7 linked regions of the Homo sapiens genome follow. The protein of the gene in region 1 interacts with the protein of each later gene in a biochemical or structural test. Each region holds a gene or a part of one and is shown in the gene's direction. Other genes may lie near its edges. The genes, in order: GSK3B, IRF1, CCNE1, SOX10, CREB1, NFKB1 and NOTCH2.

Region 1 (4,551 bases):
CTTGAGATAAACAGAAGGTTTAAATTATACTCTCTTCGTCCATGAAGTTTCTCTCTCCTCCAGTCAAGAGTCTGATTCTTTACTCCATGCAGACCCAGTTTCTCAGTGTATCTTTTTGGTAAGAAAACTGAGAAAGTCTTCTCTTTTGAAAGATGATGTCAATAGTCAGGCATCTGTTTTTGAATGTCATTTTGAATTATACTTTTTCTGAAGGATATTAACAGGAAGAATGGTGATGCTACTAACAGGGTTATTGATGTCTTGATAGAGCAGTGATTACAGATTTTCTCAGTCCACATGAGTTTTCCTAGACCACTGTATCAATCACCTTGGAGGCTGACATCTCAGAAGAATATTCTAAAGATCACACTTTGGAAATACGTTTACATTCAGCAGCATGCTCTACTAGAAAGAACTATAAACTTAAAAATCAGGAGACCTGGTTTCTGGCCCAAAGTTACTGATTATTCATGATTTGGGGTGCCTCTCTGAGCTTTTCATTTGTGTTTTAAATAAAAGCCCATCTTAGCAGGCTTGTAATGTGAGATGTTAGTAAAATTAAAAGTTATAAAGCACATTGTAAAATTTTCTTCTTTTGAGTTATTAAAGAATGAAGCGAATAGTACATATGGTTAATGACAGTTTAGCTAATTCATATAGAAATAGCTAATTAATACAGAAGTGACACAAAACTTGTGAAAGGAAGATTGAGTGCCAGTAATCCATAGCATTTCACCTGTTCTTTTCTGAGAATCTGTTACTTTATTGACTGCTTAAGGATTCTGATTTGTTTAGAATAGGAAGTATTTAATTAATTTCTACTATCTATTCCAGTTGTATATGTATCAGCTGTTCCGAAGTTTAGCCTATATCCATTCCTTTGGAATCTGCCATCGGGATATTAAACCGCAGAACCTCTTGTTGGATCCTGATACTGCTGTATTAAAACTCTGTGACTTTGGAAGGTAAGCTACTGTCCCTCTCCCTGCCCCTTCCCTTTTCCCCTCCTCCCCCTACTATCTTCTTTTAAATATATTCCTTTTGCAATATCAGCCTAAACACAGTAATTCTTATTCAAGAAGTATAAACTAGTGCAGCTGTGAGAGTAGTTTTGTTAGTTTCTGTCAAAATTATAAATGTATATACTCCTTCATTTAACAGTTTAACTTTTAGGAATTATTTCCTTAGGAATACATATTTACAATACAGTGTATATATAGGGATTTTTATTATAGCATTGTTTATAAGCATCCATTAGTAGGAAAATGGCTAAATAAATTACGGTACATGCAGAGTAATACATGCAACCATGAAAAAGAATGAGGCAACTCTCTGTGAACTGAAAGGGAATGATGTCTAGGAAACATTAAATGAAGAAAGCAAGATCAAGAGTATATGTATTGTATGCCACCTTTTATGTTTTAAAAACATACAGAATGTGACTATATATATATATATGTACACACACACATATATACACAAGTACATGTGTGGCTTATTTCTGAAATGGTACGTAATCCATAATATTTGATTGCCTGAGAAAGGATCTTTGGGAATATAATGTAGTTGGGAAACTCACTTTTTCATTGATTGTATTTTAGTATTGTTTGAATTTACATTAGGTATATATACTCCTTTTTCAGTAAGAACTAAATTTTTTCAAAATATTGATTATTATACATTCCTGTGTATCTTTTTAACTTCACAATTAACCTCAATTCAGGGATGAGATAAAAAACAATGCAGTGTTTTCTTCATTTTCCTCTATAATTTAACCTTTTATTCCACCCTTTTTCCTGCAAATTTCATCAAACTTTCTGCTTTTAAAAGCTCATTTCTTGGTAATATACTGTGAATTTGTAATACAACTTTATTCTTTCCATTTTCAGTTTTCAGTACTTTGTGCCTCTCTGATCTAACCTTTTAACATGTAGTCAAGCCTACATTCCCATGTAACTCAGGCAGTTACCCCGCTACTTCCTCACTGGTGTAATCACCTAATCTCTCTCCTCATGGTCCCTAAGACATCTTTACATAATTTGGATTCTCTCCAATTTAATTTTTTCACCCTTGTTACAGATTCTTTTCACCATAGCTCTATAGATAACATATTGCCCCACACTTGTTAATACCTGTGTTCCTATCCCTTTGTAATACTTTTACATCAATTCACAGTTTAAATTTGGGGTTTAACATAGGATATGTTTTCCACAGGCTTCTCTTGAGACAGATCCTTTAAAAAATAAGTAAATCTGTTCTGTCATGAGTTAATTTTTCTTAGTCTCACAATGTGTCCTCTTTCAGACTGTCCTCATTTTACTGTTTTCTAATTTCAGATGACCTATCACTTTGCAGGCCATGACTCTGTTCCCTGAACTATTTTTAAAAAGGGTGAAAGATAGTAAAACTCTTACCTGGTGTTTGAAACAAAGCACTACTACTTGTCTATAGGAAAAACTGCCCAAATCAGATATGTTTTATTGTTAATGGGGTGTCTTCACCATTGAGAGTGACTGACTTGGTAGGGACAGACTGAGACACCAAGGTTAGAAGAGCTTCTGTTCTCATATAGTGTCAAAACACTTGGTACAGCCCATTCTCTTGGGACATAAAATAGCTTTATTCTGATAAATTTGGAAGAGGGATTTCGCTTGTTTGATAGCTCATTTTTATAAACCCTCTGATTTTTTTGTTTTTAACAAAATTGGTTTGGTCAGATGGAGTTTGGGAAACACTTTGGACTGTACATTATCAGATTGGTAATTTGAACAAAATACTATTACTTTCTTCTTATTTTTTTACTAGATGAAAAGGGGCCAAAAAGTAGCTAAAGAACTAGTTGGGCTATTTAGGAACAAAAAGCTAGATGTGATCACAATATTGGGAAGTAGTTAAAACCAGTCTCCTCTGTAAGAGAGGCTGCTCCGTTTTTGTAGCTCCATCAGGTAGTGAAAAAACTTCAGGCTACAAAGCTTGGGTATTAACGTTTTGTCTCGTAATGAATTTTCTGAACATAATTAGCATCTATCTTGTTAATTAAAAAGCATCCTTTAGAAGATATAACAGTCTCCTATCAATTATGCTGAAAACTAAATGTCATAATTTTCATGCAGCCTAAAAACAGGGATTAGTATTTATTAATTTATGAAATGGTTATTGTATGTCAGTACTTGGGGAGAGGGTTAAAAAACAAACTTCAAAACTAGTGATGAAGGAAAAAGAAGTTAAGGTTAGAGTCATCATTGACTAGAAATAAATGGAAGAAAAGAAATCCCAGTCATTGAAATCCTTGTGACTACTTTCATCTGTCTTTACCCTGGTTTTCCAGTACCTTTACTTTTTTTTTTTGGCACTTACTGTTTTACTGTTTTGATTTTGTTGCATTTTGTCCCTTTATTTATCTTTATTATTAATGTATGTCAGAATGGCTGGCTTCTACAGCAGTTTATTTTATTCTGTCTTTGGATTATCTTGGGCGACATCTCAAAAGAAATTAATTGTAATTTATTATACTTCATATTTAAAATACATGCAATGAAGTATTTTAGTAGGAAAATTGGAATAAGAAAACATGCAATTATACTTACTATAGCAGAGTTAGAATTTATAGGCAGTGAATCATTTCTGCCCTGAAGTTGAAGGGCCTGTTTATAATTTATTGGGTAATAAATGTTTATGTGGTTAATAAATTGACCAAGATATGGAAAAATAGATTGAGTCTATAAGCCTTGAAATATTCGCCGTGAGTCAGAAGTCAAAATGCAAGACAGTGGCCAGTTTCTCACCCTTTTTAAAGAAATACATTGGGTGAGGAGTATTCATTCTTAGAATCCATTGTCATGCTTTTTGGTGGGGGAGGTACCTCTTTTCTGCCCTTGCTTCTTTGTATTTTAGAGGTGGAATTTGGGGAACAGAGGATCAGAAGAAATTCAACACTTATCCTTTTTTGCTTTTGGTGCCTTCTTAGGTGACAAACGCTTTCTTTAAAAATTGCTATTCTTTTTTGCAGAGCAAGGTGATAAAATTGTAAATTTCTTTTATTAGAGATAGTTACAGTTTACATTTTCTTTTTCATATATGATTCAAATGATGTGAATCTTATAAAATCATTTGATACTGTGAAAGGATAGCAGTCTAAGTTCTTTAAGGTTTAGATTTAAAGAATTTCTGCTTTTTATTTTTATTTTTTTTCTGTTAGTGCAAAGCAGCTGGTCCGAGGAGAACCCAATGTTTCGTATATCTGTTCTCGGTACTATAGGGCACCAGAGTTGATCTTTGGAGCCACTGATTATACCTCTAGTATAGGTAAGTACAAATCTGAATATAATGCTCATAATTATTAATTGCTTCTTGATTTTGGTAATTTAGTACTACTAATCTGTACTTTTATTTCCATGGAAAGATGGATATATCCCATAATGTTTTTTTTCTTAAAGCTTGAGATGCAAACATGTATAGGCATACCTCATTTTATTATACTTTCCAGGCACTGCTTTTTTTTTTTTAACCTCTCAAAGGTTTGTGTCAACCCTGAGTCAAGCAAGTCTGCCC
Region 2 (4,383 bases), on another chromosome or scaffold:
CTAGCACATGTGTAACAGGCAGAGGGAGGTCTTTGTGAGCTAATAATGCTGCAGCTCATCCAAACTAGGTGTCCCTCCTGAGAGATCCAGAGTGGTCTGTTTAAGCCAGCCTCAAGATGGGTGTCCAAGCCAGATGTCAGGGGAAAAAAGGGGAAGTCAGCCTTTTCTCAGACCTGTCTGGCTGGGCAGGCCTGGGTCTCAGACTCAGCCCCAAAGTCTGTGGTCTCTGACCTGACACAGCCTTATGTGTATGTGTGTATTGTTCAGGAGGAGATGATCTTCCAGATCCCATGGAAGCATGCTGCCAAGCATGGCTGGGACATCAACAAGGATGCCTGTTTGTTCCGGAGCTGGGCCATTCACACAGGTGTGTGCCTGGGACTCAGGCCTAGGAAGCCCAGGGTAGAGACAAGAGGAGGCACTCACGTTAACACAGAGGCTCTTCACTGGGGTCCCTGAGCTCCCTGAGACAACATGCAGAATTACTGGGAAGAGGGGCTGGTGGCAGACTTGTGTTTCTGGAGAAGAGAGTCGATCATCTCAGCAAATTCTCAAAGGGAAAAGCCAAGATCTTAGAAAGTGTGTGGCTTCAGGGGGTTTGTGGCTAGATGAAAGTTCTCCCTGGCAAAAGCATCTGTGAAAAGCAGCTGTAAGCCAGGGCACTGAAAGAGACCCAGGTCTGCCTTTTTCTTCGTGTTGACCAAGGCCCTTGGTCCAAGCCTCATGTGGTTGGTGGCCTCCTTTATCCTTGAGAGATGGAGCTCTAGGCCCATCTCAGAACAGTCAGCCCACCCATTTAGTAACTGTTCTCTGCTGCCCAGTCTGTGCCCACTCTACCCTCTGGCTGCTGATAGCCCAAGGAGGAAGACTGGGCATAGTCTGAGACACAGATAGTACACTTTGGGGATATGGGGACTCTAGTGCTTCTGGCTGGGCCCTTCACTGAGGCCCGCTAGATGTGTTTAAGCCAAGCCTGGGCATTTGAGAAGGCCCAGGGCCTAGGACCTGCAGAGTGTCACCGGGAGTACCTGCTGGTTTGACCACTGTGGCTCTCTGGTAGCATAAGAGGTCAGGGGTACCTTGCCTTCCTCCTTCAGGCCAGGGGCAGCTGAGGATCCCTACCCATGGCCCTGACGATCCTCTTTTTTCTCCTGCCCTCTAGGCCGATACAAAGCAGGGGAAAAGGAGCCAGATCCCAAGACGTGGAAGGCCAACTTTCGCTGTGCCATGAACTCCCTGCCAGATATCGAGGAGGTGAAAGACCAGAGCAGGAACAAGGGCAGCTCAGCTGTGCGAGTGTACCGGATGCTTCCACCTCTCACCAAGAACCAGAGAAAAGGTATCCAAGGACTCTGGGTCCTTGGGAAGCCCTCAGGGAGGGAGGGTAGAAGGAGGTCAGCTGGGGCTGGAGAGCCTGCACCAAGGCTGACAGCCCGTCTGCCCCACAGAAAGAAAGTCGAAGTCCAGCCGAGATGCTAAGAGCAAGGCCAAGAGGAAGGTGAGTGTGGTCCTAAGCAGCCAGGCCTTTGGTCACCTGTGGGCCAGGGTGAGCAGTGGAAGAAATGCTAAGGTGGGCCTGGGCCTAAGCTGCTTTCTCCCTCGACAGTCATGTGGGGATTCCAGCCCTGATACCTTCTCTGATGGACTCAGCAGCTCCACTCTGCCTGATGACCACAGCAGCTACACAGTTCCAGGCTACATGCAGGACTTGGAGGTGGAGCAGGCCCTGACTCCAGGTGAGCTGGTCCAGGTCTGGCAGGAGACCCCACAGGTCAGTGGGATGACTCTTTCTCTTGGAGGCATGGTGCTGGCACATGGTGGCCCATTAGTGCAGGCTGCAGGGTTGGTCGGAGGGCGCTCGATGTCTTGCAAACTAAGAAAGCACACAACCTTGACCTGTGGCTTCTGCTGTTCCCCAGCACTGTCGCCATGTGCTGTCAGCAGCACTCTCCCCGACTGGCACATCCCAGTGGAAGTTGTGCCGGACAGCACCAGTGATCTGTACAACTTCCAGGTGTCACCCATGCCCTCCACCTCTGAAGGTTGGTGCTCCTGGGGCCTGGCCTGCCTGCTTGACTGTCTGGGTCCTGTGAAGGGCTTCCTGAGAGAGAAAAGATGATCAGAACTCCACCTGGCACTGAATTGATTGAGTTGGGCATTGCCCAGTCTTAGCCACCATAGGGGGAGGCAAGCGACGGGGACACTAGGAAGGCAGTTCAGAGTGGGCTGCAGTACAGTGGGGGCTGGTGAGAGGAGGGAAGGGGGCCAGGGGCTGCATTTTGGGGTGCTGGTTCTCCTTCCTCCTCTGTAGCCCAGCATCTGAGGGTGAGGAAGGAAGTAGGGTAGGGGTGGGAAGCGGCGTGGCTTCAGGGTTTGAGAGGCTGAGTCACCAGGCCAGGGTCCTGTTCTGGAATCTCTATGGCAGATAGGTCCACCGGGAGGGTGTGTGTGTGTGTGTGTGTGTCAGAGAGACAGAGAGACAGAGAAAGGGCAGGGGGATCTGGTGGGCTGGAACTGGAACTGCAGGGTGAGTGTGGCTGACTGCCAGCCAACCTCTCTGCTTTCCCCATCCACAGCTACAACAGATGAGGATGAGGAAGGGAAATTACCTGAGGACATCATGAAGGTAAAGCCCCTTCCTACCTGGGCACTCTTGAAGTGACCGTTTCTCAGTGAGGAGAGAGAACCAGTGAAGCTTCCAAATCAGAGGATGGGTAGCTGCTGTTGTCACCTGGCTGCTTGCATTGTCCCACAAGTGCCACATTCACGTGGCTTGACTGGTGGGAAAGCCACCATGGGAAGGGAAGGCAGGTGGGAGGCCTGGCCTCTGACAGGCCGTCCTGAAGCAAGCCTTGGGGCATCAGACAGCTCTGTGAGTCAGGCACTATCAGCGATGGGTCCCTGGCCTGCATCCTCTGCCCCAACATGCCCCAGCCCTGCTAGTTCGGGAAATGCACATCAGGCTTCAATAATCAGCCTTTAGGATCCGTTAATATGATGATGGCTTTATAGAAAAAGTTAGCAAATTATCCTCCAGGTTTTTTTTTCTGCTTCAGTTTTGAAAGTGAATATAGTTTTTGCAGCCGGGGGCAGTGGCTCATGCCTGTAATCCCAGCACTTTGGAAGGCGAAGGTGGGTGGATCACCTGAGGTCAGGAGTTTGAGACCAGCCTGACTAACATGGTGAAACCCATCTCTACCAAAAATATAAAAATTAGCTGGGCCTGGTGGCGCATGCCTGTAATCCCAGCTACTCTGAAGGCTGAGGCAGGAGAATCGCTTGAACCTGAGAGGCGGAGGTTGCAGTGAGCTGAGATTGTGTCATTGCACTCCAGCCTGGGCAACAAGAGCAAAACTCCATTTCAAAAAAAAGTTTTTGCAGTAGTTGTACGCCAGCTGTTCCATTAGCCCAAAAAATTGAGACATGGATGTCGTTCCTTATCTCTAGCTTTTCTAGTCATCTTTTCTTGATTTATTATGCTAACCTTTGTTTTAAGCCACATTCCCTCTTACTATGTCCTTACACAGTTGAGAGGGAAGTCGTGGAGATGCTATACCAGAGAGTGGGTGTGAGAGGGGTGGGAAAATGAATTGAGGACCAGTGCCAACATGCATTTCTGCCTCCTCCCTCCCGGGCCCTTGTCCTGACTGCAGTGCACTTCTGCATCCTATCTGAGATTGTGAAAATGGCCAAGGGTGTGATACTGGCTGAGAGGAGCTGGCTCATTGAGGGCAGGGCCACAGGGTGAGTCTGCACTGGAAGGGAGTTGATAGCCTCTTGCTCTTCTGTCCCCAGCTCTTGGAGCAGTCGGAGTGGCAGCCAACAAACGTGGATGGGAAGGGGTACCTACTCAATGAACCTGGAGTCCAGCCCACCTCTGTCTATGGAGACTTTAGCTGTAAGGAGGAGCCAGAAATTGACAGCCCAGGGGGTAAGAAGGCCCTGGATCCTTATGGCTTCTTAGATGAGGGAGAACCACGTAGGGATGGAGAAAGCTTGGGGGCAGGGCCAGGGAGCAGGGCGGTAAAGCATCTGGGGTACTGACACATTGTGAATTAGCTACGGCTGCCATGCCTTAAGGTTTGCCTGAAGCTGAGTGGATGTTTACTGCTGTGCTGGGAAGAGCAGAGGCCATGTCTATGGCCTTCAGGGGTAGGGGGAAGCACACCTGATGCCACCGTCCCCTACCCTCATACAACCTTCTTCACATCTTCTAGGGGATATTGGGCTGAGTCTACAGCGTGTCTTCACAGATCTGAAGAACATGGATGCCACCTGGCTGGACAGCCTGCTGACCCCAGTCCGGTTGCCCTCCATCCAGGCCATTCCCTGTGCACCGTAGCAGGGCCCCTGGGCCCCTCTTATTCCTCTAGGCAAGCAGGA
Region 3 (4,551 bases), on another chromosome or scaffold:
CGATCTCCTGACCTCGTGGTTTGCCCGCCTTGGCCTCCCAAAGTGCTGAGATTACAGGCGTGAGCCACCGCACCCTGCCTAATTTTTGTATTTTTAGAAGAAACGGGGTTTCACCATGTTGGCCAGGCTGGTCTTGAACTCCTGACCTTGTGATCCACCCACCTCGGCCTCCCAGAATGCTGGGATTACAGGTGTGAGCCACCATGCCCAGCTAAATTGCTTTTAAATGTATTCACTGGGATGCATATATCACCTGTTTTATAGCTACTGTCATAAATTGTAAACATATATGAACAAGCTTATCTTAAACAGGTCTGACATTGCTCCTTTTTAACTTCTTGGAATCCATTCCCTTTTCCACCATTCCCATTTATTCTAATAAAATATATTGTTCAAATCCTGGCTGGGCACAGTGGCTCATGTCTGTAATCCCAGCACTTTGGAAGGCCAAGGCAGAAGGATCCCTTGAGCCCAGGAGTTAGAGACTAGCCTGGGCAACATAGCGAGACCCCATGTCTTTTTTTTTTTTTTTTGAGACGGAGTTTCGCTCTTGTTGCCCAGGCTGGCATGCAATGGTGTGATCTTGGCTCACCACAACCTCTGCCTCCCGGGTTCAAGCGATTTTCTTGCCTCAGGCTCCCGAGTAGCTGGGATTACAGGCATACGCCACCACGCCCGGCTAATTTTGTATTTTTAGTAGAGACGGGGTTTCCTCCATGTTGGTCAGGCTGGTCTTGAAGTCCCGACCTCAGGTGATCCGCCCGCCTTGGCCTCCCAAAGTGCTGGGATTACAGGCGTGAGCCACTGCGCCTGGCCCTTGAGACCCCATTTCAACAAAAAATAAAAAATTGTCAGGGTATAGTGGCTCAGGCTTGTAGTCACAACTACTGGGGAGGCTGAAGTGGGAGGATTGCTTGAGCCTGGGAGTTGGAGCTTGCAGTGAGCTGTGATAGCGCCACTGCACTCCAGCCTAGGTGACCATGAGACTCTGTCTCAATTTTTTTTTTAAGCATATTTTTAAAGATATTTGGACCATTGGAGTGGCTTCTGTGTTTTGAGACAGAGTTGCTCTGTCACCCAAGCTGGAGTGTAGTGGTGCAGTCACGGCTCACTGCAGGCTCCAATTCCTGGGCTCAAGCAGTCCTCCCACCTCAGCCTCCGCAGTCCTTGGGACTACAGGCATGAGCCACTACTCCCTGCCGATTTTTTATTTTTTGTTGAGTTGGGGTCTTGCTATGTTGCCCCGGCTGGTCTCCAACTCCTGGGATCAAGGGATCCCCATGCCTTGGCCTCCCAAAGTGCTGGGATTGCAGGTGTGAGCTACAGCACCCAACTCAAATCTTTTCTTGGTCCACACTATTTTATTTCTCTTTAACAGTTAATCAAAAGAACAAGTATAACAACATTTGATAGATAATGGTTAAACATAAAAGATGAGATTTTATTGGTTGTATATCTTACTGGGATGAACTGCGGTAGCTTATAGTTTCTTGATTAAGGGAAGCTTCCTAGACAACCTTGTAAGACTTGAATGGGTGAGAAGTGGGCTTTTCTTCTGAAGTGGAAGGACATCTCAGGCAGACCTGCTTCATGAAAACATGTAGAAGTTGAGTGTGTAACTACAGAAGTACCCCTCATCCTCGGGGGTACATCCCAAGACCCGCAGGAGATGCCTGAAGCCACAGATAGTACTGAGCTCTAGATATGCCATGTTTTTAATCCTCTACTTTCATGTTTTCACTTAAAGAAAGCACTTCACGGCTTCTCTTTGGCATTTCCAAATAGCCAGCATCACTACTCTTGCCCTGTGGGGCCATTATTCAGTCAAATAAGGGCTGCTTGCTTGAACACCAGCACTGCTGTGCTGTGACAGTCCATCTGATGACCTGTGTGCTAGTGAGTGACTAACAGGCAGGTGGCCTACTCCACGGGGATGTGCGGGCAAGGGGATGATTCACATCCTAGGCAGGTGAGGGTGGGACAGGCCAGAAGGGCCCCTCATTTAAAACCTATCAGTTGTTAGGCTGGGCACAGTGGCTCATCCCTATAATCCCAGCACTTTGGGAGGCCGAAGCAGGTGGATCACTTGAGGCCGGGAGTTCAAAACCAGCCTGGCCAACGTGGTGAAATACCATTTCTACTAAAAATACAAAAATTAGCTGGGCATGGTGGCGGGTGCTGGTAATTCCAGCTACTCGGGAGGCTGAAGCAAGAGAATCGCTTGAGCCTGGAAGTTGGAGGTTGCAGTGAACCAAGATCACAACACTACTTTCCAGACTGGGTGACAGAATAAGGCACCTCAAAAAAAAAACAAAAAAACAAAAAACTATCAATTGTTGAGTTCAGGAACTTTGCATTTTATATTTTCCTTCACCAAAGTCATTACAAGTTTTTTTTTTTTCCCCTCCCTCAAGTAAAACTTACTTGTGCTAAAACTTACTAAATATGTTTTCAGGTGTGTGAAGTCTATAAACTTCACAGGGAGACCTTTTACTTGGCACAAGATTTCTTTGACCGGTATATGGCGACACAAGAAAATGTTGTAAAAACTCTTTTACAGCTTATTGGGATTTCATCTTTATTTATTGCAGCCAAACTTGAGGTAAATAATTTTCAAATATTTGTTCTATAATGTGTGTTATTTCTCGAGCTCCACTGAGATTGGGGGAAGAGGTTGGCGCTTAGCCTATAGCACTCATCCTAAATTTTTCTGATTTGCTACCCTGTAAAGTTAAGACACATGCCAAAAAGAAAAAAAGGCTGGAAAGTGACCAGGAAGAGAAAAGTAGTGAGGGTATGGAAGACCTAGGTTCATGTAGTTACATTGAGCCAAAAAAAAAAATGAACTTTGAACTAAGATAATAATTTTGGGCCCGGGTTGGTGGCTCAAGCCTATAATCCCAGCACTTTGGGAGGCCAAGGCAGCTGGGTCACTTGAGGCCAGTAGTTTGAGACATGGTGAAATACCATTTGTACTAAAAATACAAAAAATTAGCCAGGCGTGGTGGCACGTGCCTGTAATCCCAGCTATTCGGGAGGCTGAGGCAAGAGAATTGCTGGAGCCCAGGTGGCCGAGGTTGCAGTGAGTCGAGATCCTACCACTGCACTCCAGCCTGGGCAACAGAGGGAAATTCTGTCTAAAAGAAAAAAGAAAAGATTAAAAATTTGTGTATGATTATCAAAGGGTATATGGGCCCAACTTTCAAATGTGTTAAAGGTACTGAAAAGGGGATATTTCAAGAGTACCCACAATGAGTCAAAGTTCCATCCATTTATTTAATGGTGGGTGGGAGTTGTGTTCTTTTTTTTTTTTTTTTTTTTTTTTACAACCATTGGTGTGGCTTCTGTGTTAATTCCATCAGTGCGCCCTCTCTCTTTCCATGCCAGGGTACTGAGAAGTCATTTTGGATGCATTATAAATTGAGACTGTTAGAGATTGGCTTTGGTGCTAGTGCCATCTTTTATTTCCTTTCAGGAAATCTATCCTCCAAAGTTGCACCAGTTTGCGTATGTGACAGATGGAGCTTGTTCAGGAGATGAAATTCTCACCATGGAATTAATGATTATGAAGGTGGGTTCCAGTGAATTTTCCGGCCATTTTTTAAATGCGTACGGCAGATCTTTTCCACCTGAAGTGTGAGTGCCTCTGGGAGGTGTTCTCCAGCTGGACACATTGTGGCATGGAACATGGCTGCATTTTGAACTTCTTTTCTCAATCATCGGTCTCTTTTCTCTCTGTTTTCCTTTAGGCCCTTAAGTGGCGTTTAAGTCCCCTGACTATTGTGTCCTGGCTGAATGTATACATGCAGGTTGCATATCTAAATGACTTACATGAAGTGCTACTGCCGCAGTATCCCCAGCAAATCTTTATACAGATTGCAGAGGTAAGTGGCTCCATCACGTCCGTGGGGCCACCTTCCCTGCAGCTGGAGTGAGGAACTCTAGAATAGGCGTGTGGTGGCATCCATCTCAGCGTTCTTTTCTTCTCCGTAGCTGTTGGATCTCTGTGTCCTGGATGTTGACTGCCTTGAATTTCCTTATGGTATACTTGCTGCTTCGGCCTTGTATCATTTCTCGTCATCTGAATTGATGCAAAAGGTTTCAGGTAAGTTGGCTTTCCAGTGCATGCACAAACAAGGTGTACTAAGCTTACATCCAGTTGTCAGCCTCAGATTAAGCCCACGATGTCTTCACTGCAGGGTATCAGTGGTGCGACATAGAGAACTGTGTCAAGTGGATGGTTCCATTTGCCATGGTTATAAGGGAGACGGGGAGCTCAAAACTGAAGCACTTCAGGGGCGTCGCTGATGAAGATGCACACAACATACAGACCCACAGAGACAGCTTGGATTTGCTGGTCAGTGCTGCTCCTTCTTTCAGTCCTTCTTGGCCAAATTCTTAAAACTGCCTAAATAGGCCAGCCGCGGTGGTTCAGGCCTGTAAACCCAGCACTTTGGGAGGCCGAGGTGGGCCGATCACTTGAGGCCAGGAGTTCAAGACCAGCCTGGCCAACATGGTGAAACCTTGTCTCTACTAAAAATAAAAAAATTA
Region 4 (3,795 bases), on another chromosome or scaffold:
CAGGGATCCATTTTATTTACATTAGTATCCCCAGCACCTGGCACAGTACCTGGCATTTTGTAATGCTCCCTAAGAGTTTGCTAAATTAATATGTGAATAGGAAAGTGAACAGACAAAGGAACAAGGACCAGTTTTCTAAGTGCCCTCCCATGGAGGAAGGCAGCTCAAAGAACAACAGGGCAACACAGGCCAGCGTATGACGGGGCTAAGGGCTTGCCAGTGGGCTGGGAAGCAGGGTGGGCTCAGGAGGAGGGAAGGGTTGGAAAGGACACAACATGAGGCCAGGACAGGGAGCAGGCCCAGGCAACCAGCAAAGGTGAAACAGAGCACTCAGGAGCCTGGGCGAGCGAGGCTCAGCAAGGAAGACAGTAGGCATGGGTGTGGAAGCGGGGCTGGCAGAGCGCAAAGGCTGGGCCAGACCACCTGGACAGCAGAGAAGCTGATGAGAGGAAGAACTTTCCACAGGAAAGGTTTTTTCAGAATGAGGCAGGCCTCCCCAGGACCCATCCCTAAGATTTGAGAATTTCATAAACAACTAGAGATCAATCTAAGACACCAGTATTTAAACAAATGCTGTGGGGCGCAGTGGCTCATGATGGTAATCCCAGCACTTTGGGAGGCCGAGGCAGGTGGATCACCTGAGGTCAGGAGTTCAAGACAACCCTGGCCAACATGGTGAAACCCCGTCTCTACTAAAAATACACAAATTAGCTGGGCATTGTGGTGGGCGCTTGTAATTCCAGCTACTCAGGAGGCTGAGGCAGGAGAATCATTTGAACCCAGGAGGCAGAGGTTGCAGTGAGCCGAGATGGCGCCACTGCACTCCAGTCTGGGCAACAAGAGCGAAACTCCATCTCAAAAAAAAAAAACAAAAAAAAACCCGACTCATGCTGCCAAAATGTGAAACTTACAAGGTTTTCCCAGAGGCACCCGCTGCCTGAAGGTGAACCATGGAAGTTCACGTGCGCCCACCTGCCTCTAACCTGCTTCCCCCTTGCGCTCTCTCTCTCTGTCTCCCTTCTACCCAGGCCAGAGCCATGGCCCACCCACCCCTCCAACCACCCCGAAGACAGAGCTGCAGTCGGGCAAGGCAGACCCGAAGCGGGACGGGCGCTCCATGGGGGAGGGCGGGAAGCCTCACATCGACTTCGGCAACGTGGACATTGGTGAGATCAGCCACGAGGTAATGTCCAACATGGAGACCTTTGATGTGGCTGAGTTGGACCAGTACCTGCCGCCCAATGGGCACCCAGGCCATGTGAGCAGCTACTCAGCAGCCGGCTATGGGCTGGGCAGTGCCCTGGCCGTGGCCAGTGGACACTCCGCCTGGATCTCCAAGCCACCAGGCGTGGCTCTGCCCACGGTCTCACCACCTGGTGTGGATGCCAAAGCCCAGGTGAAGACAGAGACCGCGGGGCCCCAGGGGCCCCCACACTACACCGACCAGCCATCCACCTCACAGATCGCCTACACCTCCCTCAGCCTGCCCCACTATGGCTCAGCCTTCCCCTCCATCTCCCGCCCCCAGTTTGACTACTCTGACCATCAGCCCTCAGGACCCTATTATGGCCACTCGGGCCAGGCCTCTGGCCTCTACTCGGCCTTCTCCTATATGGGGCCCTCGCAGCGGCCCCTCTACACGGCCATCTCTGACCCCAGCCCCTCAGGGCCCCAGTCCCACAGCCCCACACACTGGGAGCAGCCAGTATATACGACACTGTCCCGGCCCTAAAGGGGGCCCTGTCGCCACCACCCCCCGCCCAGCCCCTGCCCCCAGCCTGTGTGCCCTGTTCCTTGCCCACCTCAGGCCTGGTGGTGGCAGTGGAGGAGGCTGAGGAGGCTGAAGAGGCTGACAGGTCGGGGGGCTTTCTGTCTGGCTCACTGCCCTGATGACCCACCCGCCCCATCCAGGCTCCAGCAGCAAAGCCCCAGGAGAACAGGCTGGACAGAGGAGAAGGAGGTTGACTGTTGCACCCACACTGAAAGATGAGGGGCTGCACCTTCCCCCAGGAATGACCCTCTATCCCAGGACCTGAGAAGGGCCTGCTCACCCTCCTCGGGGAGGGGAAGCACCAGGGTTGGTGGCATCGGAGGCCTTACCACTCCTATGACTCCTGTTTTCTCTCTCACAGATAGTGAGGGTCTGACATGCCCATGCCACCTATGCCACAGTGCCTAAGGGCTAGGCCACCCAGAGACTGTGCCCGGAGCTGGCCGTGTCTCCCACTCAGGGGCTGAGAGTAGCTTTGAGGAGCCTCATTGGGGAGTGGGGGGTTCGAGGGACTTAGTGGAGTTCTCATCCCTTCAATGCCCCCTCCCTTTCTGAAGGCAGGAAGGAGTTGGCACAGAGGCCCCCTGATCCAATTCTGTGCCAATAACCTCATTCTTTGTCTGAGAAACAGCCCCCAGTCCTCCTCCACTACAACCTCCATGACCTTGAGACGCATCCCAGGAGGTGACGAGGCAGGGGCTCCAGGAAAGGAATCAGAGACAATTCACAGAGCCTCCCTCCCTGGGCTCCTTGCCAGCTCCCTCTTCCCTTACTAGGCTCTATGGCCCCTGCTCAGTCAGCCCCACTCCCTGGGCTTCCCAGAGAGTGACAGCTGCTCAGGCCCTAACCCTTGGCTCCAGGAGACACAGGGCCCAGCACCCAGGTTGCTGTCGGCAGGCTGAAGACACTAGAATCCTGACCTGTACATTCTGCCCTTGCCTCTTACCCCTTGCCTCCCAGTGGTATTTGAATAAAGTATGTAGCTATATCTGCCCCTATTTTCCTGTTCTGCAGCCCCCCAAATCCACATGTAACTCATTACTGTCTCCTGTTATTTATCTCAGTAGTCCCCTCTCCTAGCCACTCTAGCCCCTATTAACTCTGCATTAAGCATTCCACATAATAAAATTAAAGGTTCCGGTTACCTGCTTGGTGAGCCTGACCTGGCCTGTCTCTTCATCTCTTATCCCTGTACTGGTGCTTCCTCAAATGCTTTCTGGAAGTAGCTAGGAGTAGAATGCAAAGGATAGATCATCAAAGGTCTCTCTCTCCCACCTCCCTCCCTCTTTCCCCACCCCCTTCCCCTCCCCCCTCCTCTCTCTCTCCCCCCTCCCTTCTCTCCTCTCTTTCTCTCTCTCTCTCCCCCCTCCCCCTCTCCTTTCTCTCTCTCTCCCCCCTCCCACTCTCCTCTCTCTCTTTCTGTCTCTCTCCCTGCTAAGAAAGTGGGAACAATGGAGAGTGTTAGGACAGCTGGCATCCCAGTGGGGTCCATCTGAGCTCAGGGACTGAAGCCTCAGATGGGAACTTCTCCCCAGCCCGGCGGCTATGCCCCACACTGCAGGGGGGCCACTCACTCTTAACTGGCTCAGCTAGAACTCACTGCCTTGCAAGCAGCCCCTCTGCTCACCCAGCACTCAGCAGACGGGAGTTTGCAAAGAATTCAAGAGACAGGTATCTGAAGAGGAGGAGGTGGGCTGAGGGTGACACCGTGCTGCCTGCAGTCAGAGGCCTGTCCTTCAGGATGTGTGGATAGGCCCTGTGTTGCTGCATCCCCCCACTTGCCACCTCCCCCAGCACACACACAGCAGCCCACGCCAGGATCTAGCCAAGCCTTCACAGCAGGTGCCCATGTCCAAGTCCAGACCAAGGATGTCAGACAGTCTACTCCTTAAGCGCCTACTCCCTAAGAGCTCTTTCCTCAGCAGAAGTCCAAACTGCACCCAGAGGCCAGGACCACTCCACCTCACAAGCACACAACTCCAAAGACTCTTTGCCATCTTGCTCCACTGATGAACAACTCCGAT
Region 5 (4,551 bases), on another chromosome or scaffold:
TGACAGTTAAAGTTTTTTTTCTAAATGATGATCTTGAGCTCTGATTTTAAAATTCCATGAGAGACTGTTGATAATTAAGTTCCATAGGATATTTCAGTTGTTTCATTGAGTGGATTAGATACCATTAAAGAATTTCTACAAGAGTTAGGGAATACAATGCACTGATGAACTGCTTTATTAGTTATATGTTAAAACAACCATTTATTGGGTGCCTATTTCATGGCTGCCACTGTGCTAAGTGTATGAAAGTATATAAGAAAATTCCTACTCTCCAGAAATTTATTTACTAGTGGGACAAGTATTAATACATTATGCAGTTAATGCTAAAATAAAAGAAAGGATCACAGAGTGGAACCTCTTCAGAACCAAATAACTTCAGAAGGAATTTAACATTTTTCCACTTAAAAAAATTGTTAACAGGCATTATTATTATAAATTAGAATGCAGTTCATAGAGTGCATTTCTATTGTAGAAGTTGAATATGGGTTTCCTGAGGAGCAAGTTACTTGAATATATTAGACCCTTCTTGGTGATGTTATTTGCTGTAACTTCTCCTAGATTATTTTACAAATTATTCTACATTGGATGTAATGTTTTAAAAGTCTTATATGGTATTAAACTTGTAACAATAAAATCCATTGGCTTTTAGTTGCCATTACCCAGGGAGGAGCAATACAGCTGGCTAACAATGGTACCGATGGGGTACAGGGCCTGCAAACATTAACCATGACCAATGCAGCAGCCACTCAGCCGGGTACTACCATTCTACAGTATGCACAGACCACTGATGGACAGCAGATCTTAGTGCCCAGCAACCAAGTTGTTGTTCAAGGTAAGGGAATTCAGAATTCACAGGTGTGGTAAATTCTTCAAAATACTAAAATTTTATAAACTCACAGAAAAAGTAAGTATCATATTGCAAACCACCATTCAAATGTAGTTAACATTTCTTCAATATTGATAGTATTTTTCATGAACTCTTCCATTATTCCAATTGGACCAAAATGTCATGGCATAAAAACAACTATTTTCAGTTTTTAAAATATTGCATCTACCTTTAACATCTTTTGGGGTAGAAGAAACAGGATAGGTTAGAAGGAAAGACCAGGAAATCAGGAGTTAGAAAAGATGGATTCTGTATCTAACTGCATGGATCTGCTATGAGGCCTTGAGTAAAAGTCAGCTGCTCTGAGCCTCAGGAAAGTGTTTTGTTTTTTGTTGTTGTTGTTTTTGTTTTTTCATCTGTAAAATAAGAGTTGCACTGAATCTCTGGAAACAATCTTCAGAAGTTCAGGATTCTGTTTCTCTGCTTCCCCCCCCCCCCCCAAAAGAAATTTAAATCTTCTGAGATCATCAGTTTTTATTATTATTATTATTATTTTTTTCTAGAGACATGGTCTCACTGTGTTGCCCAGGCTAGTCTTGAACTCCGGGCCTCAAGCAATCCTCCTTTCTCAGGCTCCCAAAGTGTTGGGATGCCTCTGCACTTGACTCAGTTTTTGTTTCAAATGAAAACATTATATTCCACAGGATCTTATACCAATATGCAAATCTGCTGCTCTTTAGAGAAAAAGTAGTTGTTAAATTCTCGACAAATTATAGAAGTTGCTTTTTTTGGCTTTTTTTTTTTTTTTTTTAGTTTTTTTTTTCTGTTTATTTCAGGAATCTTTATGGATAGCAGTTAACCATTTTTCTTTGGATTTGTTTGAATATTTCAAGAATATAGTTAATGCCAGGTTAGAAATTTGCTGATTGAGGAAATAATAATAAATTTGTTTCTGAAAATATTTTTATAAATAATAATGCATTTTGCCTGTGTTAGGTAATGACAGTTGTATCCTTTCACCATGGATAATTGAATAATCCTGAAACACCAACTGGAGAGAGTCATAACTTATTTAAAGAGCCCTAATGTTTACAGAATATATTCTGTTATTAAACGAGTATTTGAAAAAGATACTATTTTGCTTATTGATGAGAGTAAAACACCTTTTCACTTTACATGCAGGTACTCAAAAATTGTAAAGCAGGATGTCAGTGAATTTGAATTCTGAACGTCAGTTTGAAGATGGTAACATGTTTAGTATATAAATCTTTTCCACTCAAACCATACATTTTAATTGATATTAATAATTAATATGAATAATTTTATAAAGACCTTCAAATTTTTTTAAGTAACATTAGGTTCCTTATTAGGAGAGCATATTATTACGCTGTTTTTAGAAGCAGTTTGACAAATAGTGATTGTGTTTGTTTTTACAAATGGTGAATCAGTTAGAAAAATAAAACTTCAGTTTATTTAGCCATTATCATTTACATTAAAACAATATGTTTTTCAAATAATATAATTGGCATCAAGTGATACACTTTTTCATACTTTTAGTTTTGTTTTAATTCAAAATTTATAATAGTTGACCATAATGCTTTATCTTCTTTTTCATTTTGCTATTTTATGAAAAATCATGGTCGTTTTTATGTCGTGGCAAGAGTCTACTTGAAATTTTTTAATATGAATTTACCAATATCAAAGGAAGACACTGAGGACTATACTCTATCTAGGAAGATCATCCAAGCTGTGCCCCACTTACCTTTTAGACTTAAGGTTGGTAAGCATGTTAACAACAGAATAGAACTGCATTCAAATGAAAAATAAAATGTAAGATCCAGCGGACATAGGTTACTGTAATAAATACATTACATTGGGAATTATTTCTTAGTAGTGGCGCGAAGAGTGCTGATTCTTTCAACGCTTTAGCCAGAATCATCTTTTCTTTTTTGTTTCCCTTTTAGTCCAAAATACATGCTTAGATTGATGATTGATACACATAATTGAATCAAGTTGCAATGTTTCTGTCTTACACCATGCTCACTGTTTTTTTCAGCTGCCTCTGGAGACGTACAAACATACCAGATTCGCACAGCACCCACTAGCACTATTGCCCCTGGAGTTGTTATGGCATCCTCCCCAGCACTTCCTACACAGCCTGCTGAAGAAGCAGCACGAAAGAGAGAGGTCCGTCTAATGAAGAACAGGTACAAATACTGCATTTACTTAGATTGTTATGTGTTAAGTGTGTCTTCACATTCTGCTGGATGTGTATCTTTACATCTACTGGTAATAGGATCTTTGCATTGAATTTTTTTTTTCCAGCAGAATTAATGGATCTTGCTAAATTTTCTTTATTTAATAAGCTGCACTTATAAGATAGCTGTATGATTATGGGTCAATCTTTGATCGTGGAGTAGTTTTCTTTCATGCAGTTTCCCCACAGGAGATTTAATGCACAACTTCCCTATGTCTGCACTCCAACCAGTTAGCCAGGTTATTTAAAAATGGTTTCTTTTCATGTATAGTATTGTTCAAGAAGATCAAGAGTTTCATATATGTATATTAACTGTGTGTTAAATTTTATCTATATTAAATTTACTTGATATAAAGTAAATGTATGGTGGCCAGTTCATGTTTTAATGAATAATATCTTTACTCAAAATAATAACATTTTAACACCTAAAGATTCTTCAAAAATATGTTAATTCTAAGAATACCATGTTACGGACAAAAATCTTAAAATATAGTCTTCAAAAAAATACTACATTCAAAATCTGTGAAATGTTGGTAAAGCAATTCTCAGAAAGTAACTTTATTGCTGTAAATGATTTTGCCGTCAAAAACAATAAAAATAAGTTACTAAATATTGGTTTAGAACTTTCATATAGAAGTGACCGAGACAAACAAAAGAAAATGAAAATAAGGTTATGTAAAGGTTTAAAAAGTTTGAAATTAGTGAAAGTATCTCACTGTTCATCCCAGGATACTTCAAACACTGATAAAGTGAAAGAAGCAGGGCTTCCAAGTCCTAGCCCTATCCCTCCATTTTGGGAGAAGGTATTAACCTTCTGTACCTCAGTTTTGTAAAATGGGATTCCAGCACACACCCAAAGTATTGTTGTAAGAGTCAAGTAAGAGAATCCTTTGAAAGCACTTTGTAACTGTAGTGCTCTGTTGAAATGGGTTTGTGTGTGTGTGTGCAATTTCACAGCTCAGATCAGCTTTTTTGTTCCTAAAATATTCTTAGCTGTCACAATGTTAGTAAATTATATCTAAACTCTGAGAAATGGCAGAGATTTTTCTGGGATATTAGAAAAAGAGTTGGAAACAAGCCAAGTGACTTTTTTTTTTTCTCCCGAGATGAAGTCTTGCTCTGTCACCCAGGCAGGAGTGCAATGGTGCAATCTCAGCTCACTGCAGCCTCCACCTCCTGGGTTCAAGCAATTCTCCTGCCTCAACCTCCCGAGTAGCTGGGATTACAGGTGCCCACCACCACGCCTGGCTAATTTTTGTATTAGTAGAGACATGATTTCACTATTTTGGCCAGGCTGGTCTCGAACTCTTGACCTTGTGATCCACCCTCCTCGGACTTCCAAAGTGCTGGGATTACAGGTATGAGCCATGGTGCCCAGCCCTCAAGTGACTTTTATTTGTGCTCCATCCATCTGTGATTTTGAGTATTTAAGTTTTACTAAAGAGAAGCATAAAAGCTGCATTCATAA
Region 6 (4,551 bases), on another chromosome or scaffold:
CAGAAGAGGTGAAAGTTCTGGCTTCTGGGGGGAAGTGGTTACTTCATAACCTTCAATTGGTTTGAACTTGGGAGAAGTAAGAAAAGTAGTCGATATTTTCAAACAGTAAAATAATTGTATCTGAGTTGCTGTATGGATTTTTGATGAAGTACTCAAAATGTCATCTTTTGCATCTTCGGGTCTTAGTAGATGTGCTATTCTGAGTATAGAATTGACTGCAGTAGGAAGTGTATCTGGAAATGCACAGTACTGTTGTATAACCAATAGAGTAAATTCTCAGATTATGCTCTTCTGGTCCACAGATTGATCAGAAATCACATTAACAGGAATGGATGTCTATGCAAAATTTCTCATTAATTTTCTTACTTTTAGTAGGAAGTTTGTTTTATTCGGTTGGTCTGTTGGTTTTCTGTTTACAAGGTGAATTGTCTACAGTAGTGGGATTGTTATATTAGAAGAGAAGGAGAAGGAAAAATAGAAGTTAGTGCTAGAGGATATGTTAAGATGTTCTGCTCCTACATCTACATTTGTGTCTAATCAGCATTAATTGATGACTACGTCTTGGTAAACAGTAGACCATACTGGAGCAATTTACTCTGCTTTTTGGGAATTAGTTCTCATTTGCACTCTTGCACCTCCCATAAATACTGAACTCACTTGTAGTGTTCTTAGAGGTCAGCAATAAACCATCAAGAGCATATGATCTCTCTTTGAATTTTGTCACTACTTTGGAGACAGACAGTTTGGAAGAACTGAAGGTACTCAGCCTCAGGGAGAAAGGTTTGAACGTTTTGGCATAGTCCTGCAAGTCAGTTTGGCTCCTTGACTGTGAATTTTTTTAATCAAAAAAGATTAATATTTGAAACCACATAATTTGGACAGTTAATAGTTCTGGTAACATAACCAAGCCTTTTATCTTTGTAGTATTTCATTAATTAGTATCCAGTGCCTCACTTTTAGAAGAAAAAAAGAGAAAAAAGTAGTAACATTCTTTTAATGATGATGAAATTGCTTCATACCTTTGGTCTCTGCTGTATTAGGGGTTGTTCCTGGGTGCAAATTAATATACTGTCTTTTACATTTCCGGAGGTTGTTGACCTGGCCTTGAAGATCAGCCAACAGTTTAGAAAATAAGTTGTGCAAATTGCATTGCTACACCTCAAATAATTTAAAGCCTGACAGTTCTGTACAGAATAAGAGTCACATAAGATGTGATTTGTTAAAGATTATAGAAATCTCAGAAGATAGATTATGGATGAAAATATTTGTTTAATTTAGAGTACTAATAATAAAAATAGTGCATTTTACATTTTAAAAAGAAAACAATTTTTATTGTGTCATATTTTCTGTAGTAACAAACAGAATTAATTATCAGTAATACAAATTTCATCTGCTTTAATTTATTGCCTGTTTTTGAAATTAGAATAATGATATATTTGGTTTAATTATCCATTACAAATTGCCTTATTATTTTTCATTCATCTTTCACCATTAATCCAGAAACCTTAAAATAGCTTTTATTTTGACCCATGCCTTCAGTAGATATCAACAGACTTGAGTTCATCTATGGATCCTATTAGTTTAAACTGTGACAAATTTTGACTGCTTAAGCTTTAGAAAAGAATTTATTCTTTAAAATAGCCAAAATTATAAAAAATGAAATAAAGAAAAAGCTGTTTGAGAGAATCAAATACTCTAGTTTAACTAAAAATAAATAATATCTAATCAATACTGACGAAAGAAATATCTGATGCTTAGCATTGTACTTGTTGGTACATAGTAAGCAATCATTAACTGTTAAATGAATGAATGATATGAAGTTGTTGCAAAATTTTTTTTTAAATGGACAGCCATCTTCTATAAGGAACAAAAATTACATTATTTTGCTTTGCCTTCTGGAAAGAAAGGAGCACAAAATAGTCCTTGTGTCTTAGATATTATGGAAATCTTATCTAAAGACCACTTGAAGTTTACTAGAACAAATAATTTATTAAAAAGTATCTGGCGCCTTCCAAAAGGGGAACATTTCATTCTGAAAGAGGCATTTATGAACTAGAAAAAAAATGCCTTTTAGTTTCAAAGTTTTAGAGGCACCAGAGCAAGATTATAAAGTAATTGGAATGATAAAAGGTGCTTGTAAAATTGAAAAATGTAATTTTTTGGTGAAGTTAGAATTTCTGTACACTCCATTGAAACTGTAATATCAAATACTAATACCTCCAAAAAAGAAACAATGCTACAAGCACTGCTTGGTAATCTAAGAATTGTTAACACTTATCTAAATTAATCAACCAAAAAGTTAAAACAAAATATGTTATTTTGTTATGTTACCTCTAGAATTAAACACCTATCACCCATAAATCTGTGACTGTTAAAAGTTACTAGATGGCAAACCTCAGGAACAAGCAGGCAGTTAGCAGGGTTTACTGTACTTTCCACTTTCATACTTTAATGATTTTTCCAACACTATAGAAGCTGGGGCCTCATCCTAGCACAGTTTGTTCATTATTTTTCAGTTGTAGCATTTTTTAAAAGTTGGCCTTGAATTTCTGAATTGAACCATTTATTTTTTTGTGGACACAGTTTTTTAAATGAAATATACCATTTAGACTAGAAAAGAGCAAAATGCCAATACTCCCTGTCCTAGTGTCATTGTGCCCCCTGGGAACCCTAATGCAGTCCTGTGGGAAAACAACCATTTTATTGAGCGCTGCTCACTTCAGTTCATTCTGCTTTGCTGCCACTTAGTTCTGGTTCTGACCCTGATCTCCCCTCACATCACTCACAACAAACATTCAAGTTTAAAAATTAAGTTAAAAGTTAGTTACATATATATGTAACTAATGTGTATATTAAATATACTGATATATATTAGTTACATATACAGATATGGCAACAACAAAAAAGGTTATATATATACATATTTGTAACTAATATGTATATTAAATATAATGATATATGTATAAATACATATTTGTAACTAATATAATTATATTTAATATATATTAGTTACAAATATGTATATATAATATTTTTTGTTGTTGCCAGCAAAATGAGAAAGAAATTAAATGTTAACATCTATAACAATTGCACTGTAAAGCCGTCATTGTTGAAAAGTACTCCGAAGATTAATAGCGGCAGTGTTTGTTAAAATAATAAAATAATCCAGGCACTCTGCCTGTGACTTCCCCATGAGATGGCTTCCAGAAAAAGATAAATTTTTGTGTGTTCCCTTACGAGTTCAGTCTGCAGCTTCTGGGCATGAAGAGAAGCATAAACAAAACAAACAAGGCTCTAACTTTGTTATAATCCTTACGCTACTAGTAGAAATGTATGGACAATTCATGCATTTCATATTGGAAAATAAAGCTATTAGATTTTTCTTTGAGATGAACCTTTTTTTTGTAATTTATTTTTTATTTTTTATTTTTTTTCAGTAGAGATGGGATTTTGCTCTGTTGGCCAGGCTGGTCTCAAACTCCTGACCTCAAGTGATCCACCCGCCTCAGCCTCCCAAAGTGCCGGGATTACAGGCGTGAGCCACCTAGCTTGGCCAAGGTGAACCTTTTTGATAAATGAGGCTCACTAATATTTCTAGGATTTACTTTTCACTAACTTGAACTAAAGAAAGTATAAGACCTGCATAAAGTTGAGCATACCTCTATAATGTCCCATTTTAAAAAGCAATTTGTTTTTAATGACTTTTATTTGTTAAAAGCAGTTATTTCAAAAAATTATTTTTATTATTTATCATGTCATTTGGACTGAAAATACTATACCATATTTCAGTGTTAGGGCACACCTATCCCTCTTTATCCCAGACGTCAATTCTACCATATAACAAGTATGTAAAAAAGAAAACATAAAAGTGATGACAGACTCCCTAATCAACCTATTTATTGGTTCTAAGCCCAAGCCTGCAGTTCATTTAAATAGTGAAAATAGATTACTTAATTGTCTTAGAAAATATGTCTTCCATGACAAGAATTTTAGGAATGAGAAAATAACTATTTTTGGATGTTTTAACACAAATTCCCAAATCATGTTTTATTGATATTTGAAGAACCTCTTTGTCTACCAGTTCTTAAGTATAGGCTTATTTTGTAAGGCTTAAACATGTATTGGTGTTTGACTGTTAAGACTTGATCTATAACCTTCAGTGTCTTTTTCTTTTAAATGGGGTATGGACTTGGTAATGAGGCCAGAGGAGAATACCTTACAATTTATAGCATCTGCATATAATACAAGAACCTTCATGATTTATAAAATTAAAATGATGATGATGTGGAATGATGGAAGAAGCATGTGTGGGTGGCTATTTATGTAGAGGAAATTAGAAGTTGAAAGCAATGTTAAGAATTAAAATTAAATTACACTTAATTTTTTGCTCAGTTGGATAGTCAGGAAAGTACTTAAATCAGCAATTGATTTACGTAAAATCAAAACTGAAAACTGAATATACAATCTAGGAAATAGGAAAAAAATTTTTAGTGTGTTCATACTGCTAATTTCAAACCAAGCAAAAAACCTGGGGAACTACTTTTCAGAGGA
Region 7 (4,551 bases), on another chromosome or scaffold:
TTTGAAGAGACAAACATTTATACCTCTTGCTGCTTGATCTCGTTGGCCAAAAACATTACTATTTTTATTTCATTTTTAAAGCTACCTCTTCTTTCCCAAGTGACCACCGGCCAAATGGGGCCTATCTCCTGCTGTTGGCCAGGAGTCCCAGCTGTGCCCTGCGTCTCCTCTGTGGTTCCAGTTGCCTCGTTCTTTATCTTGGAGCAGTGGCCCCCAGGGGCCTTCCGTTTTAGAACTATTCCTAGAGGAAACTAACTCTAGGAAAATTAAGCTGTGTTTTAAGGAATACGAGTTAGGTTACAGAAAGGCCAAAAAGTGATTGAAATGAGGTATCACAGATGAAAATTCTCTATACCGCAAATCACCATTTAAATGTATTGGCCTGGTGTAGCCTCTCCTATGAAGTAGATAACATTAACAAAATGCAGTGAATAGTTTTTCAACTGTTTTTTTGCAACTTATGAAAGCTAAAATGACTTCAAAAAGCTGAAGTGTGATTTCTCTTTTTTTGATGGGATTTAAGTCACTTTTCTCACCCACCCTGTTGTGTGAGTTGGTACTTACTGTGTAGGCAAGACAGAGTAAGGGACTGGCCTGAGCTGGTGACAGGCCAATCATGTTGAGATGCAGTGAGTGTTTTCTTTCTATGCTCAGATTACCACAGGCCTAGAACTGAACTCTCTCACACTTGCTTCACCTATGGCTAGTTCCCATCCCAGCAAAGTTTGTTGAGTAACTTGCAGTGACTACTTCTGCCTTTTAAAACCTTTTTTATTTTTTATTTTCTGAGGCCGGCACTGTGAAACCTTCGTCGATGTGTGTCCCCAGATGCCCTGCCTGAATGGAGGGACTTGTGCTGTGGCCAGTAACATGCCTGATGGTTTCATTTGCCGTTGTCCCCCGGTAAGTGCCCTGTTGCTCATCTAAGAAGGGGCATTGTCTCTTCCATACAATCTGTGAACAGAACTGAGATTAAACCTGGTTTTACCAATCTTCGAAATGGGAAGATTTCTCAATTTTAGCTCTTTCAGAGGAAAGTGCTTGGGTTTTTCCATTTAAAGCTGTTTACAAGTGACAAAACAAAACAAAAACAAATAAAAGCTGTTTAGACACTCCCAGAAACAGTGAGCTTCCCAATCCATGACTGTCAGTCTTAAGAAAAACTAAGGGAAAACCACAAAAAGTGGTGGAGTGCCCCCTTGAAAATAGGGCTGATGTGTGGGGCTTCTTGGCCCCAGGCTGGAGGGTAATCTCACTGCCCAGATTGGGCCAGAGTTGGTGGAAATGCTGCTCTTACATTCTTTAGCAGGAACCATTTGGAAGCAAGTTGTCTCTTAAAGTAGAGGGAAGCTCAATTTTAGCTATTTGCTATACCCATTCTTTTATCACTGCCAGAGGTTGAAACCTTCCCAAAACAAGAGATCCCTATGCCTCGGGAGATACCAAAAGGAAACCTGTCTAGTAACCTTGGCTTGGGCTGAACGGGAAGTACAGAAGGGAGTGAGATGTGGAGGTTTTCTAGAAACCTCAAACTTCCAATATGACTGTTTTCCTACCAATGCCATTTTTATTTCCTCACTGATTTCCACAGGGATTTTCCGGGGCAAGGTGCCAGAGCAGCTGTGGACAAGTGAAATGTAGGAAGGGGGAGCAGTGTGTGCACACCGCCTCTGGACCCCGCTGCTTCTGCCCCAGTCCCCGGGACTGCGAGTCAGGCTGTGCCAGTAGCCCCTGCCAGCACGGGGGCAGCTGCCACCCTCAGCGCCAGCCTCCTTATTACTCCTGCCAGTGTGCCCCACCATTCTCGGGTAGCCGCTGTGAACTCTACACGGCACCCCCCAGCACCCCTCCTGCCACCTGTCTGAGCCAGTATTGTGCCGACAAAGCTCGGGATGGCGTCTGTGATGAGGCCTGCAACAGCCATGCCTGCCAGTGGGATGGGGGTGACTGTTCTCTCACCATGGAGAACCCCTGGGCCAACTGCTCCTCCCCACTTCCCTGCTGGGATTATATCAACAACCAGTGTGATGAGCTGTGCAACACGGTCGAGTGCCTGTTTGACAACTTTGAATGCCAGGGGAACAGCAAGACATGCAAGTAAGGGCTTCACGTTTTCCAGAACTGAAGGGGACTGTCACTAACACACTTCAGTTTCTCGTTCTTGCTCCTAACCACTCCAGTGCTTCAGCCTAAGCTGCCTCTGCTTTTCAGATGGTGCCAGCCTTGTCCCATCGCACACTGCCCTGTGCTCTCCCTTGCTGACAATGGGCCAGGAATGCTCATTGCATAATGACCCTCTCTCTCTGCCTATCTTTGCCTTCTCACCTGCTGCCTTCGTGACCTCCTGGGGGATATAACTTTTGGAAGTGGTGTTTCCCACTTCAAGCAGCCTCTCACATAACCTGCCTGCAGGATGGATGGAAAGGTCTGTATCTCTCTCTTCACCCCATTCCTTTCCCTAAGACTGTTTTTCCCCATCTAGATTTATCAGGAAGCATGAATTAGATTAAGTCTGTGAACCCTCCCGGTCTTAATTGTATAGGATGCTCTATGGTTTACTTAGGAACTTTCCTATTAACTAGCCATTCCATATAATTTAATCCCAATTAATTCTCAGCAACTCACGAGGCATAGGTATTACTAACATTCTTTCATAGGTGAGAGAACTTAGGCCCAAGGGTTAAAGAACTTGCCAAAGCAAGTTGTTTCTTTGACTCCTAATCTTCTGATTGAGCTAGCATGAAAAGTTGTACCAAATAGTATAAATATCAAGGGGTAGGGGATGAGGAGAGGAGAGTATAGATGGAATAGTTTGTACATCATTTAGGTTTGGGGGTTCTAATTCCTTTTCCAAATATTGAAAGAGCCTGTACAAGTAATATCTGGTGTGCTATAAGGACATACCCATCTGCCTTTACCTTCTGTAGTTGGGATTCACTCTTGAAAGGGAAAGAAATGGGTCATGTTAATATTGTTCTCTGTATGGCAACTCTCAATGGTTCAGGGCCTTGTATCAAGTTTCTAGAGGCATCTTTCACTTCCTAAAGCCCGTTGTTACCTTACTGGGGGCAATGGATTTCTCTAAAGTAGAGGAAGCATGAACCAGGTTGACTTTTGTTTCAGATATGCAGCTTTGTTTGAAAACCTGACTTAACAGGCTTGTAAACTGCCTGGGAGCCCCTAAGCTCCTGCAGCATAGTGAGTACAATGTTCTTCATTTAGGAAGTACTCAACAAGGATGAGTGGCATAGGCATCAGGGATAGGAGATGCAAAGAAGGTTTTGTGGGGCATTTGGGTCCTGGGTGTGGGCCACAGAAAATGGGTAGGAAAATCCACAGTAGTTCCAAATGAAAAAGCAAATAGAGCTCCAGTCTAATCTGAGCTCTTTTGCCTGTTCTCTGCTTCCCCTTACCTAGGTATGACAAATACTGTGCAGACCACTTCAAAGACAACCACTGTGACCAGGGGTGCAACAGTGAGGAGTGTGGTTGGGATGGGCTGGACTGTGCTGCTGACCAACCTGAGAACCTGGCAGAAGGTACCCTGGTTATTGTGGTATTGATGCCACCTGAACAACTGCTCCAGGATGCTCGCAGCTTCTTGCGGGCACTGGGTACCCTGCTCCACACCAACCTGCGCATTAAGCGGGACTCCCAGGGGGAACTCATGGTGTACCCCTATTATGGTGAGAAGTCAGCTGCTATGAAGAAACAGAGGATGACACGCAGATCCCTTCCTGGTGAACAAGAACAGGAGGTGGCTGGGTAGGTGTTTGGTTTCTGAACTTCAAGGCTAATTTTATGAAGCCTAGCACTTTGACATATAGCACAAGTCATAACTCAACCTATAGAAATGCAAAGATCAGAAAAATAGAATGGCCCACCACTTAAGATAAACCCGTTACCCCAGTACTTACGTTTAAATGTAAAGATATGCCTTCGTCTTGGCTGAAAAGTGGGCAGGGGTACACAGGAGGCAGAATGTCTGGAAGGCCTCCTCAGATGCCAGAATCCATAACCTTTTGCCAGAGTTGCCTCAAATCCCTTTATTAGTGACATTCCTTTTTACATTAATCATTGCCTTATTGTTAAGGCCCTTCTTTAGAATATATGTCTCTTTGACACAGGTAATGATCTTCAGTTGCTCTGTCATTCACACCTCACTCTTTGTTGGTATATTGTCAAACTTTCAACCCTCCAGCTAGCTGAGATACCAATGCAGAGACAAAGGAAAATAAGGACTAAAAACACACAGGGATGTATGTTTAGAGTAGCACCAAGTACCACTGAGTAGGTATGAAAGAGTGGAAGAAGACCACTGAAACCTTCGGGAGGAAAGCACAGCTTCTCACTTTGTCATGCATTGCCTCAGCCAGAAGGCTTTGGTCAGCCAGACTAAGGAAGGTGGGACATCCTCTATGTGGGAATTAGTGTTTAAGATCTCAAGGGACAGTATTCTAATTCCTGAGATATGTCTTAAGGCAGCATCCCAGAGGTGGGGACCTGATGCTGAAGGGGAGGAAGGGAGGCTCCTGTCACCCTTTATGACAT

The links.
Region 2: the proteins of GSK3B (region 1) and IRF1 form a complex in vitro, tested with the Homo sapiens proteins (one study listed by BioGRID).
Region 3: of the proteins of GSK3B (region 1) and CCNE1, one has a biochemical effect on the other in vitro, tested with the Homo sapiens proteins (one study listed by BioGRID).
Region 4: the proteins of GSK3B (region 1) and SOX10 form a complex in vitro, tested with the Homo sapiens proteins (one study listed by BioGRID).
Region 5: of the proteins of GSK3B (region 1) and CREB1, one has a biochemical effect on the other in vitro, tested with the Homo sapiens proteins (one study listed by BioGRID).
Region 6: of the proteins of GSK3B (region 1) and NFKB1, one has a biochemical effect on the other in vitro, tested with the Homo sapiens proteins (one study listed by BioGRID).
Region 7: the proteins of GSK3B (region 1) and NOTCH2 form a complex in vitro, tested with the Homo sapiens proteins (one study listed by BioGRID).

Annotation. Positions count from the first base shown.
Region 1 is NC_000003.12:119,912,458-119,917,008, reverse strand, and holds part of GSK3B (glycogen synthase kinase-3 beta), read left to right. Parts: intron 1-834; coding exon 835-965; intron 966-4,198; coding exon 4,199-4,305; intron 4,306-4,551. UniProt on the Homo sapiens protein: Constitutively active protein kinase that acts as a negative regulator in the hormonal control of glucose homeostasis, Wnt signaling and regulation of transcription factors and microtubules, by phosphorylating and inactivating glycogen synthase (GYS1 or GYS2), EIF2B, CTNNB1/beta-catenin, APC, AXIN1, DPYSL2/CRMP2, JUN, NFATC1/NFATC, MAPT/TAU and MACF1.
Region 2 is NC_000005.10:132,483,910-132,488,292, reverse strand, and holds part of IRF1 (interferon regulatory factor 1), read left to right. Parts: intron 1-267; coding exon 268-367; intron 368-1,162; coding exon 1,163-1,339; intron 1,340-1,448; coding exon 1,449-1,498; intron 1,499-1,606; coding exon 1,607-1,736; intron 1,737-1,919; coding exon 1,920-2,042; intron 2,043-2,576; coding exon 2,577-2,626; intron 2,627-3,795; coding exon 3,796-3,931; intron 3,932-4,217; coding exon 4,218-4,342; 3' UTR 4,343-4,383. UniProt on the Homo sapiens protein: Transcriptional regulator which displays a remarkable functional diversity in the regulation of cellular responses.
Region 3 is NC_000019.10:29,818,247-29,822,797, forward strand, and holds part of CCNE1 (G1/S-specific cyclin-E1), read left to right. Parts: intron 1-2,455; coding exon 2,456-2,602; intron 2,603-3,475; coding exon 3,476-3,571; intron 3,572-3,749; coding exon 3,750-3,884; intron 3,885-3,993; coding exon 3,994-4,105; intron 4,106-4,199; coding exon 4,200-4,357; intron 4,358-4,551. UniProt on the Homo sapiens protein: Essential for the control of the cell cycle at the G1/S (start) transition.
Region 4 is NC_000022.11:37,971,432-37,975,226, reverse strand, and holds the end of SOX10 (transcription factor SOX-10), read left to right. Parts: intron 1-1,028; coding exon 1,029-1,732; 3' UTR 1,733-2,915; downstream 2,916-3,795. UniProt on the Homo sapiens protein: Transcription factor that plays a central role in developing and mature glia.
Region 5 is NC_000002.12:207,574,623-207,579,173, forward strand, and holds part of CREB1 (cyclic AMP-responsive element-binding protein 1), read left to right. Parts: intron 1-649; coding exon 650-832; intron 833-2,008; coding exon of another isoform or gene 2,009-2,025; exon of another isoform or gene 2,026-2,031; coding exon of another isoform or gene 2,032-2,071; exon of another isoform or gene 2,072-2,303; intron 2,304-2,487; exon of another isoform or gene 2,488-2,602; intron 2,603-2,882; coding exon 2,883-3,033; intron 3,034-4,551.
Region 6 is NC_000004.12:102,504,047-102,508,597, forward strand, and holds part of NFKB1 (nuclear factor NF-kappa-B p105 subunit), read left to right. Parts: intron 1-4,551.
Region 7 is NC_000001.11:119,922,851-119,927,401, reverse strand, and holds part of NOTCH2 (neurogenic locus notch homolog protein 2 isoform 1 preproprotein), read left to right. Parts: intron 1-790; coding exon 791-903; intron 904-1,591; coding exon 1,592-2,097; intron 2,098-3,417; coding exon 3,418-3,765; intron 3,766-4,551. UniProt on the Homo sapiens protein: Functions as a receptor for membrane-bound ligands Jagged-1 (JAG1), Jagged-2 (JAG2) and Delta-1 (DLL1) to regulate cell-fate determination.